Homo sapiens: one gene and its partner. The protein of the gene in region 2 interacts with the protein of the main gene of each other region in a pairwise test. Each region holds a gene or a part of one and is shown on either strand. Other genes may lie near its edges.

Region 1 (5,045 bases), on a different chromosome or scaffold from region 2:
TCCTAGCTTTGTGCACTGAAAGGGCCTAGAAGCAGTAGTAAGTCAATAGCAAATGTTTATCTATAACTCCTAGGTTTTAGTCTTTAAAATGCCATTTTCCACTGAAAAGATCAAGGCTTCTTGGGGAAATGGATGATTGCAAGTCTGGAACCTTGTTTCATAGTAGAACATAAAGAAGCTATCAAAGACTGTTGGAGTTGTACCAAAAGGGTCCAAGAGCCAACCTGAAGGGGACTCCTGCTGCCTCAAAATGGGTACCTTTGAGCCTTAAAAAGAGCAATAACTGCAACAAATTGAAACACATCAAATACATTTTTAAATCCATAAGTTCATAATGATGCCTCTCAAAATAAGAAAAAGTACCAAAAAGCCTGAATAGCCAAAGCAGTCCTAAGCAAAAAGAACAAAGCTGGAGGCATCATATTATCTGACCTTAAATTATACTACAAGGTTATTGTAACCAAAGTAGCATGGTACTGGTATAGAAATAGATGAATAGATCAATGGAAAAGAATAGAGAACCCAGATGATGGGTACAGCGATGCTAGGAAAATTCAATTGCCATATGCAGAAGAATGAAACTGGAACCCTGTCTCTCACCATATACAAAAATTAACTCAGGGTGCATTAAAGACTTAATGTAAGACCTGAAAAATACTGGAAGAAAACTGATGAAACTCTTCTGGACATTGGTCTAGGCAAATAATTCATGACTAAGACCTCAAAAGCAAAAGCAACAAAACCAGAAATAGACAAATGGGACTTAATTATTAAGTAAAAACTTCTGCACAGCAAAAGAAGTAATCAATGGAGCAAACAGCCTGCAGAATGAGGGAAAATATTTGCGACCTCTTTATCCTATAGGAGACTAATAACCAAAACTTACAAGGAAATCAACAACAAAAAACAACCCCATTAAAAATGTGCAAAAGACATGAATAGTCATTTTTCAAAAGAAGACATACAGATGGCCAACAAGCATATGAAAAAAATGCTCAATATGCCTAATCAGAGAAATGCAGATTAAAACCACAATGAAATACCATCTCACACCAGTCAGAATTTTTAGCTGTTACTGAAAAGTTAAAACATAGCAGATGTCTGCGAGATTGTGTAGCAAAAGGAATGTTTATACACTCTTGGAATGTAAATTAGTACAATCACTATGGAAAACAGTATGGAGATTTCTTTTTTTTTTTTCTTTTGAGACGGAGTCTCGCTGTGTTGCCCAGGCTGAAGTGTAGTGGCGCGATCTCGGCTCACTGCAAGCTCTGCCTCCCGGGTTCATGCCCTTCTCCTGCCTCAGCCTCCCGAGTAGCTGGGACTACAGGCGCCTGCCACCACGCCCGGCTAGTTTTTTGTATTTTTAGTAGAGATGGGGTTTCACCGTGTTAGCCAGGATGGTCTCGATCTCCTGACCTTGTGATCCGCCCGCCTCGGCCTCCCAAAGTGCTGGGATTACAGGCGTAAGCCACCGTGCCCGGCCAGTATGGAGATTTCTTAAAGACCTAAAAAAAGAACTACCATTCAGTCTAGCAACCTCACTACTGGGTACCTATCCAAAGGAAAAGAAATCATTATACAAGAAAAGATATCTGAACTCAAGATGTTTATCACAGCATTATTCACAGTAGCAAAGGTAGGGAGTCAACCTAAATGTCCTTCAATGGATGATGAAAGAAAATGTTTGTGTGTGTGTTTTGTATATACATACATAAAATGGAATGCTATTCAACTATTTAAAAAAGCATGTTTTTTCCAGCAACGTGGATGGAGCTGGAGGTCATTTTTTAAAGTGAAATAATTCAGAAACAGTCAAATCTAGCGTGTTCTCACAAGTGGAAGTTAAATAATGTGTACACATTGACATGGAGTGTGGATTAATAGACATTGGAGACTTGGACAGGTGGGAGGGTGGAAGGGGAGTTAGAGATGAGAAATTAATACCTACAATGCACATTATTAAGCTTATGGTTACACTGAAAGCCCAGACCTCACCACTATGCAATATATCACCACTATGCAATACATTTACATCACAAAACTGCACTCATAATCCTTAAATTTATAGGATTTTTTTTTTTTAAATCAACCTGATCACCTTCGGAGGTTGCTACGCCATTAATTCATTATTTTGAAAATCAGGAAATAAAGGCAAAGGATCAAACATTTATCTTGACTTTGTGAATTTTAAGAGGCACCAAGTAGTTGGTGAAAGCTTATTTTTAGCAAGAATCCTGCTAGTAAATGCAGAAGGAATATGGAACTATAAAGTTACTGTTTCATAAACTTTGGTAAAATAATAGAATTAAGTAAAGGTCATCAATGGCTGCTAAAATCATTAAGTGAAAGATTAATGAGGAACTTTATTTTGGATGGATCAGGCTAAATGTAAATCCATTAGTTAATTTTATACCACCAAAATAGGACATTATATAAAAGTGATATTATATGCCTCCCTAAATACAAGCACCACCTACGAAGTATGCTTGCCAAAAAGATTTCATCTGAAACTCATCCAGCTTCTTACCACCAGATACGGGAAATATAGGATAGGTATGTTAAATAAGTTTATAAGGAAGATATTAGCCAAATCCCAAACATGGGAATTCTAAAGAAAAATTACAAATGTCATGGGAGGAAAAGAGTCATGGGGGTGGTAGTGGGGAGGGCAGGTATAATATAGATTCAAAAAGAGTTAAGTGATAAGTAACGTATATTGGACCTGAATTTAAACATAACACTTGTAAAATGATATTGGAGAATATTGAGTAAATTGAGTAATATTGAAGACTTACTGTTAATTTTGTTAGGTGTGATAGTGGTATCATGGTAATGATTTTTTAATATCTGGGTGAAGTAATGTGATTCAGGCAGCAAAATAGAAGGTATGTAGATTTTAATGGTAACTTGGGAAATACAAAAAAAAAGAAGGTATATAGATAAGCAAGAATGACACAGTTTTGATAATTTTTAAAGATAGGTGGGAAGGGTTCGTTAGATTTCTTAGTCTATGTACTTAATTTTTTTTTTAACCTAAAGAGTCTGTCAAACTTTGAGCAAGGCAGTATTTTATTAAACTTTTAAATCTATGTTATATAATTAAATAGTGGTAAATTGTGGTAAATCCTGTTTTTCTGTAGAATATATTGGTTTTCCATTTTGTTGGTGTCCAGTTTGTCTCTAATTGAGTACAATTTTTTTTTTTTTTTTAATTCCCAGTGCTTTGCCAAGTATATTAGAAGTGGCCTTGGGTCTTCAGTAAATTGCACATTTATGTGGACACATTCACACATTAGAATTGTAGATGAGCTCAAATATTAAAAGTTCAGAATGAATATTTGGGCATTTAAAACATTACAGTTTGTATTTTAAGAAGATAAGAATATAATTTATGGATGTGACCTGTGGAAATTAGTCCTCTTATTTTTCTGTTTTGTAGCTTTTTCTGTTTTGTTGGCATATTGATCTCTTGTTTATGTTTTCTTGACACTTTATTTGATTTTCCTTTTATAGGCCAGTACTTAAAAACTATTTTAGCAATAATAAGGGAAAAATGACAAAATTGATGCTACAACATTTTAAGATACTAGTGTGTTCTGTAATCAGTACATTTAAAACTTGGGAATCAAAGAATGTGGTCAGGCCAGGCATGGTGGATGATATCTGTAATCCCAGCACTTTGAGAGGCTGAGACTGACAGATCACTTGAGGTCAGGAGTTCAAGACCAGCCTGGCCAACATGGCGAAACCCAGTCTCTACTGAAAATACAAAAAATTAGCCTCGCGTGGTGGCACACAACTGTAGTCCCAGCTACTCTGGAGGCTGAGGCAGGAGAATCACTTGAACCTGGGAGGCGGAGGTTGCAGTGAGCTGAGATTGCACCACTGTACTCCAGCCTGGGAAACAGAGCAAGACTCAGTCTCAAAAAAAAAAAAAAAAAAGAATGTGGTCAAAATATCTTTAAGTTTCCATCCAATTATATATATGCTGTATAAAAGTACTTTAATTATCTTTCAGGTTGGCAAATAAACAAGATAAAGAAGGAGCTTTAGGAGAAGCTGATGTCATTGAATGTCTATCTCTGGAAAAATTGGTCAATGAGCACAAGTGCCTGTGTCAGATAGTAAGGTTTTTTTTTTTTTTTTAATTTTAATTTTTTGTCCTTTCAAATAGGTTCAGTATAACTTGGTTTTTATAAAAGTGATAGCAATTAAAAGGCAATGTTTTCAAAGAATTTTTTGTAACCTATGAAATCACATTCCCATTTTTCTGTTGATATAACTTAATACCATAATATTTGTTGTCTATTTCATTGTTATTTCCATGAACTATCTTTCCATGATTTCAAGGAGCTTCACATTTGCGTTTTAACATAGCCAACACATCATGGCATGAAATTTGTAAAATGGGAAAGAAAAGTGTAAATACAAAATTTAAACATATGAGAGATTCATAATGAATTTTGAAAAATTATTTTGCTGGGCATGGTAGCTCATGCCTGTAATCCCAGCACTTTGGGAGGTTGAAGGGGGCAGATTGCTTGAGCCCAGGAGTTTGAGACCAACCTGGGCAACATAGTGAGACCCTAGCTCTACAAAAAATACAAAAACTAGCTGGGTGTGGTAGTGTGTTCCTGTAGTCCCAGCTGCTTGAGGGGGCTGAGGTGGGAAGACCACTGGACCCTGGGAGGCTGAGGCTGCAGTGAGTTCTAATTCAGCCACTGCACTCCAGCCTGGCCAACAGAATGAGACACTGCCTCTAAAAAACAAAAAAAGAAAAGATAAATCATATCAGGAGAGATGTCATACAGTCTTAAGGAAGATGAACAGTGGATTTAATAATTTATTTTGGTTTCAAAAAACATTAGGCTGTCAATCTTATGGATGTTTACTGCTGTATATTGTAGTATAAGGAATTAAAACTTCCTGGCATTTTTAATCAATAGAGATGTCTTTTTATGGTAGTTAAATTTTTTCTTCTAATATTATAAGTGGCACTGTCACCCTCTTCTTTATAATATCTTACATAGTGTACAGATGTT
Region 2 (5,045 bases):
AGAAAGTGCATGATCGTCTTTTCCTCTTGTAAAAACCCCTCTGGCTGCTGTGTGAAGAGGATTGTAGCGAGGGGTGGCAGAAGGAGTCAGAGCCCAGCTGCGAAGTGAGGAGGGCCTTTCCAAAGGCAGTAGTGGACGGGACGGACAGAGGTGGGGGTCTTCTATGTGGCTGGCGGCCTGACCTGCTCACTCTGCTTTCAGCTGGTGATGGCCTCCCTGTACCACATCTATGTGGCCCTGGAGGAGGAGATTGAGCGCAACAAGGAGAGCCCAGTCTTCGCCCCTGTCTACTTCCCAGAAGAGCTGCACCGCAAGGCTGCCCTGGAGCAGGACCTGGCCTTCTGGTACGGGCCCCGCTGGCAGGAGGTCATCCCCTACACACCAGCCATGCAGCGCTATGTGAAGCGGCTCCACGAGGTGGGGCGCACAGAGCCCGAGCTGCTGGTGGCCCACGCCTACACCCGCTACCTGGGTGACCTGTCTGGGGGCCAGGTGCTCAAAAAGATTGCCCAGAAAGCCCTGGACCTGCCCAGCTCTGGCGAGGGCCTGGCCTTCTTCACCTTCCCCAACATTGCCAGTGCCACCAAGTTCAAGCAGCTCTACCGCTCCCGCATGAACTCCCTGGAGATGACTCCCGCAGTCAGGCAGAGGGTGATAGAAGAGGCCAAGACTGCGTTCCTGCTCAACATCCAGGTGAGGGTCGGGCAGCCTGGGGCAGCCTCTGCCTCCCCCCGTTGTTCCTCCAAGGGACCCTTCTCATTGTAGGGGAGGGTGCTATAGGTCATGGTTAACACAGGGAACCAGAGTTCCAGCACTGCCACTTACTAGCTGGGTGATCTTGGGCAAATGCCTTCATCTCTCTGTACCTCAGTTTCCCTATCTGTAAAATAGGGATAATAATGGTACCTATATCTTAGACTTATAAGGCTTGAGTGAATTTACAGCAGTAAAGTCCCCACAGCAGTGTCTGGCACAGAGGAAGCCCTCAAACATTCACTACTGTCATAATGGGACATGAGAATCAGTTGTAGCTCTCTGTGACAACAGTCTGTGGCAATGTATAAGTTGTGTGTGCACTAGTGTATAGCCAGGTTGGCACTCCCAGGGTTACAGGTGGCCTCTGCCTTCCAGGGACTCTCAGCCTAGCCAGAGAGGTTTACCTCTTTCTACAAGTGTCTCAAATCCAGGGGGAAGGTGGGGTTTGCGCAAAGCCTGGAAGGATGAATTCTTGGGCAGAGGTGGAGGGGTGAGGGGCTCCTTCTAACCAGATGTCATAGAGCCTTCTCTCTCTGCCACCCCCTGGAGGTGCCATGGGGCCTGGGGCTCGGGGTCATGCCCTCCTGGCTCCCTACTCCCAGCCGTGGATTGCAGAAGATTCTGGTCCTGGCCCCTGTTACGGAACAAGGCCTTTCCCTTCCACCCTCCCCCTTCAGAAAATCCAGTCCGTCTTGGAGGAAGAAAATCTGTGTCTTTCAGAGAAGTGTAGGCAAAAGAAAAGGGCCAGGTGCAGTGGCTCGCGCCTGTAATCCCAGCACTTTGGGAAGCCGAGGTGGGCGGATTGCTTGAGCTCAGGAGTTTCAGACCAGCCTGAGCAACATGGTGAGACCCTGTCTCTATCAAAAATAAAAAATAAAAAAAAATTTAAAGGAAAAAAATGTTTTTAAAAGAAAAGGGATTTGGAATCAGAACTGGCTCTCAGGCTCGTGCCTATAATACCAACACTTTGGGAGGCCAAAGCAGGAAAATGGCTTGAGCCCAGGAGTTTGAGACCAGCCCTGGCAACACAGTGAGACCCCATCTCTACAAAAACATGAAAAAATTAGCCAGACATAGTAGCGTGCACCTGTAGTCCCAGCTACTTGGGAGGCTGAGGTGGGAGGATTGCTTGAGCCCAGGAGGTCAAGGCTGCAGTAAGCCATGATTATGCTACTGCACTCCAGCCTGGGCAACGGCAACAGAGCAAGACTCTGTCTCAAAAACCAAAAAAACAAAAACAAAAACAAAAAAAAACGGCTCTTGGCTGGCCGGGCGTGGTGGGTCACGCCTGTAATTCCAGCACTTTGGGAGGCCGAGGCGGGTGGATCACGAAGTCAGGAGATCGAGACCATCCTGACTAACACGGTGAAACCCCATCTCTACTAAAAAAAAGAAAATACAAAAAAAATTAGCTGGGCATGGTGGTGGGCACCTGTAGTCCCAGCTACTCAGGAGGCTGAGGCAGGAGAATGGCGTGAACCCGGGAGGCGGAGCTTGCAGTGAGCAGAGATCGCGCCACTGCACTCCAGCCTGGGAGACAGAGTGAGACTCCGTATTAAAAACAAAAAACAAACAAAAAAAAACGGCTCTTAGTGCCTGACCTCTGGATCAGTCCTTGGGCAAAGCACTTAACCTGTAGGAGCTACAGTTTCCTCATCTGCAAGGCTAACAAATACCATTCAGCACACCTCACCAAGGCTGAATTTCACAAATCTAAACTCAAGAGAAGAAAGCAGCGGCAGAAGAGTGCATGTACTAGGATACCACTTAATATTATTTCAAAACAAGCAACGCAGCCTTTTGCATGGAGACACAGGCTAAGGACATGGGCGGCCACAGTGAACTCTAAATCCAGGATCATTGTTATCGGTTGGGAGGGCAAGAGCAGGCAGGGGAGCCAATTGGGCTTGGAACATCTTATCTCTTAAGGTGGATGAAAGGGATATGAATTTTCTTTCTTTCTTTCTTTCTTTCTCTCTTTCTTTCTTTCTTTCTTTCTTTTTCTTTCTTTTCTCTCTCTCTCTCTCTCTCTCTCCTCTCTCTCTCTCTCTTCTTTCTTCTTTCTTTCTTTCTTTCTTTCTTCTTTCTTTCTTTCTTTCTTCTCCTTCCTTCCTTCCTTCCTTCCTTCCTTCCTTCCTTCCTTCCTTCCTTCCTTCCTTTCTTTCTTTCTTTCTTTCTTTCTTTCTTTCTATCTTTCTTTCTTTCTTTCTTTTCTTTCTTTCTTGCAGAGTCTCGCCCTGTCACCCGGGCTGGAGTGCAATGGGGCGATCTTGGCTCACTGCAACCTCAGCTTCCCAGGTTCAAGCATTTCTCCTGCCTCAGCCTCCCGAGTAGCTGGGATTACAGGCATGCACCACCACGCCCGGCTAATTTTTTGTATCTTTACTAGAGATGGGGTTTCACTATGTTGGCTAGGCTGGTCTCAAACTTCTGACCCGTGATGTGCCCATCTTGGCCTCCCAAAGTGCTGGGATTACAGGGGCGCACCACCGTGTCCGGCCAATATTTTTCTTACCATCTTGTTATTTCCAAAGTATTTCCTAACACAACTTAAGGTCCTACCTTCAGCTGGGACCTGGTAGCATCTCTCACTGAGATAGGCATGTGTGTCTTTTGTCTTTTAGCTCTTTGAGGAGTTGCAGGAGCTGCTGACCCATGACACCAAGGACCAGAGCCCCTCACGGGCACCAGGGCTTCGCCAGCGGGCCAGCAACAAAGTGCAAGGTGAGAGCATCCAGGAAGGGGCACTTCCTCTGGGCTACACATGGAGGGACTTGGCTGTCTGACTGTAGTATCTCTATTCCTCTGTTTTCTGAATGTTTGGTGGTGGTGGGTGTTGTTTCCTGCTGCCCCACCCCACTGCCCCTGTAAGGACAGGTTCTCGCTATATTGCCCAGGCCAGTCTTGAACACCTGACTTCAAGCAATCCTCTTGCCTCTGCCTCCCCACATGCTGCAGTTACAGGCGCGAGCCACCATGCCAGCCTGAATGTTTGTTGTTGTTGTTGTTTGAGATGGAGTCTCACCCAGGCTGGAGTGCAGTGGCGCGATCTCAGCTCACTGCAACCTCTGCCTCCCGGGTTCAAGCAATTATCCTGCCTCAGCCCCCCGAGTAGCTGGGATTACAGGCGCCCACCACCATGCCTGGCTAATTTTTTTTTTGTATGTTTAGTAGAGATGGGGTTTCACCATGTTGGCCAGGCTGGTCTCGAACTCCTGACCTCAGGTGATCCGCCCACCTTGGCCTCCCAAAGTGCTGAGATTACAGGCGTGAGTCACTGTGCCCGGCCACCTGCGTGTTTTTGTATGAGAAGTGGAGTGCAGGCAAAAGGACCTGGGGTCAACCTTCAGCGTGTGGCTCTGGGCAAGCCATGAGACTTCTCCCTACCTCAGTTTCCCCACCCGTAAAATCCAGTGAGGTTCAGCTACTTCTAGCTTATTGGCTCAGAAGTGCACAAGAACCCCTCAGAAATCATGGGAAACTCCTGCCTCCTTAATTTAGACTCCTTTTTAGGCCTTTGGTCCCCTGATGTGGGCCAGGGAGTTGGGGACCTGTATCCAGCTATGAACCCACCACAGGAAGATGTCCCTTCTGAGTCTTGTTGTGTGTGAGCCCCTCCCTCATGTGCCTAAGAACGATCAAGGCTGGCTGTACTGAAACATCTTGGAAACTTCCAAAAAGACCAAAGTGCTCCACAAAATGTACCCTCACTAAGCCTAAAACACTGAGGGAGGGAGTGTGGCTTTGGGATGGGTAGCAATAAAGAGGTAAGGCTTAGCTACCTCCTGGCAGGTTATATTAGGCCTCCCCTCCTGTGCCACCCTAACCTACCTGGCTTGTGGCTTTCTCACTTGTGCCAGACCACACGGACCCCTCTGCTAGGGGTTTGTAACCCCGGAGGGCTTGGCTATTTGGTGGGGTAGGGAGACGTCACCCTAATGAAGCAGTTCTCAAAGTGTGGTACCCTGGCTGTGGGAGGTGGTAATCCTAGTATCCCCTCAACGGGGTCTGTGAGGACAAAGCATTTTTATAACACTACTACTATTTTTTTGGTTTTTTTTTTTTCGTTTGAGACAGTCTTGCTGTCACCCAGGCTGGAGTGCAGTGGCATGATCTCGGCTCACTGCAAGCTCCGCCTCCCAGGTTCACGCCATTCTCCTGCCTCAGCCTCCCGAGTAGCTGGGACTACAGGTGCCCGCCACCATGCCTGGCTAATTTTTTGTATTTTTAGTAGAGACGGGGTTTCACTGTGTTAGCCAGGATGGTCTCGATCTCCTGACCTTGTGATC

Evidence for each region. The genes of interacting proteins can lie anywhere in the genome.
Region 1: the proteins of HMOX1 (region 2) and ARL13B interact in binary tests that used the Homo sapiens proteins (3 or more experiments, as listed by UniProt).

The regions. Positions count from the first base shown.
Region 1 is NC_000003.12:94,031,310-94,036,354, forward strand, and holds part of ARL13B (ADP-ribosylation factor-like protein 13B), read left to right. Parts: intron 1-4,021; coding exon 4,022-4,127; exon of another isoform or gene 4,128-4,132; intron 4,133-5,045. UniProt on the Homo sapiens protein: Cilium-specific protein required to control the microtubule-based, ciliary axoneme structure. May act by maintaining the association between IFT subcomplexes A and B. Binds GTP but is not able to hydrolyze fit; the GTPase activity remains unclear.
Region 2 is NC_000022.11:35,386,484-35,391,528, forward strand, and holds part of HMOX1 (heme oxygenase 1), read left to right. Parts: intron 1-201; coding exon 202-693; intron 694-3,380; coding exon 3,381-3,480; intron 3,481-5,045.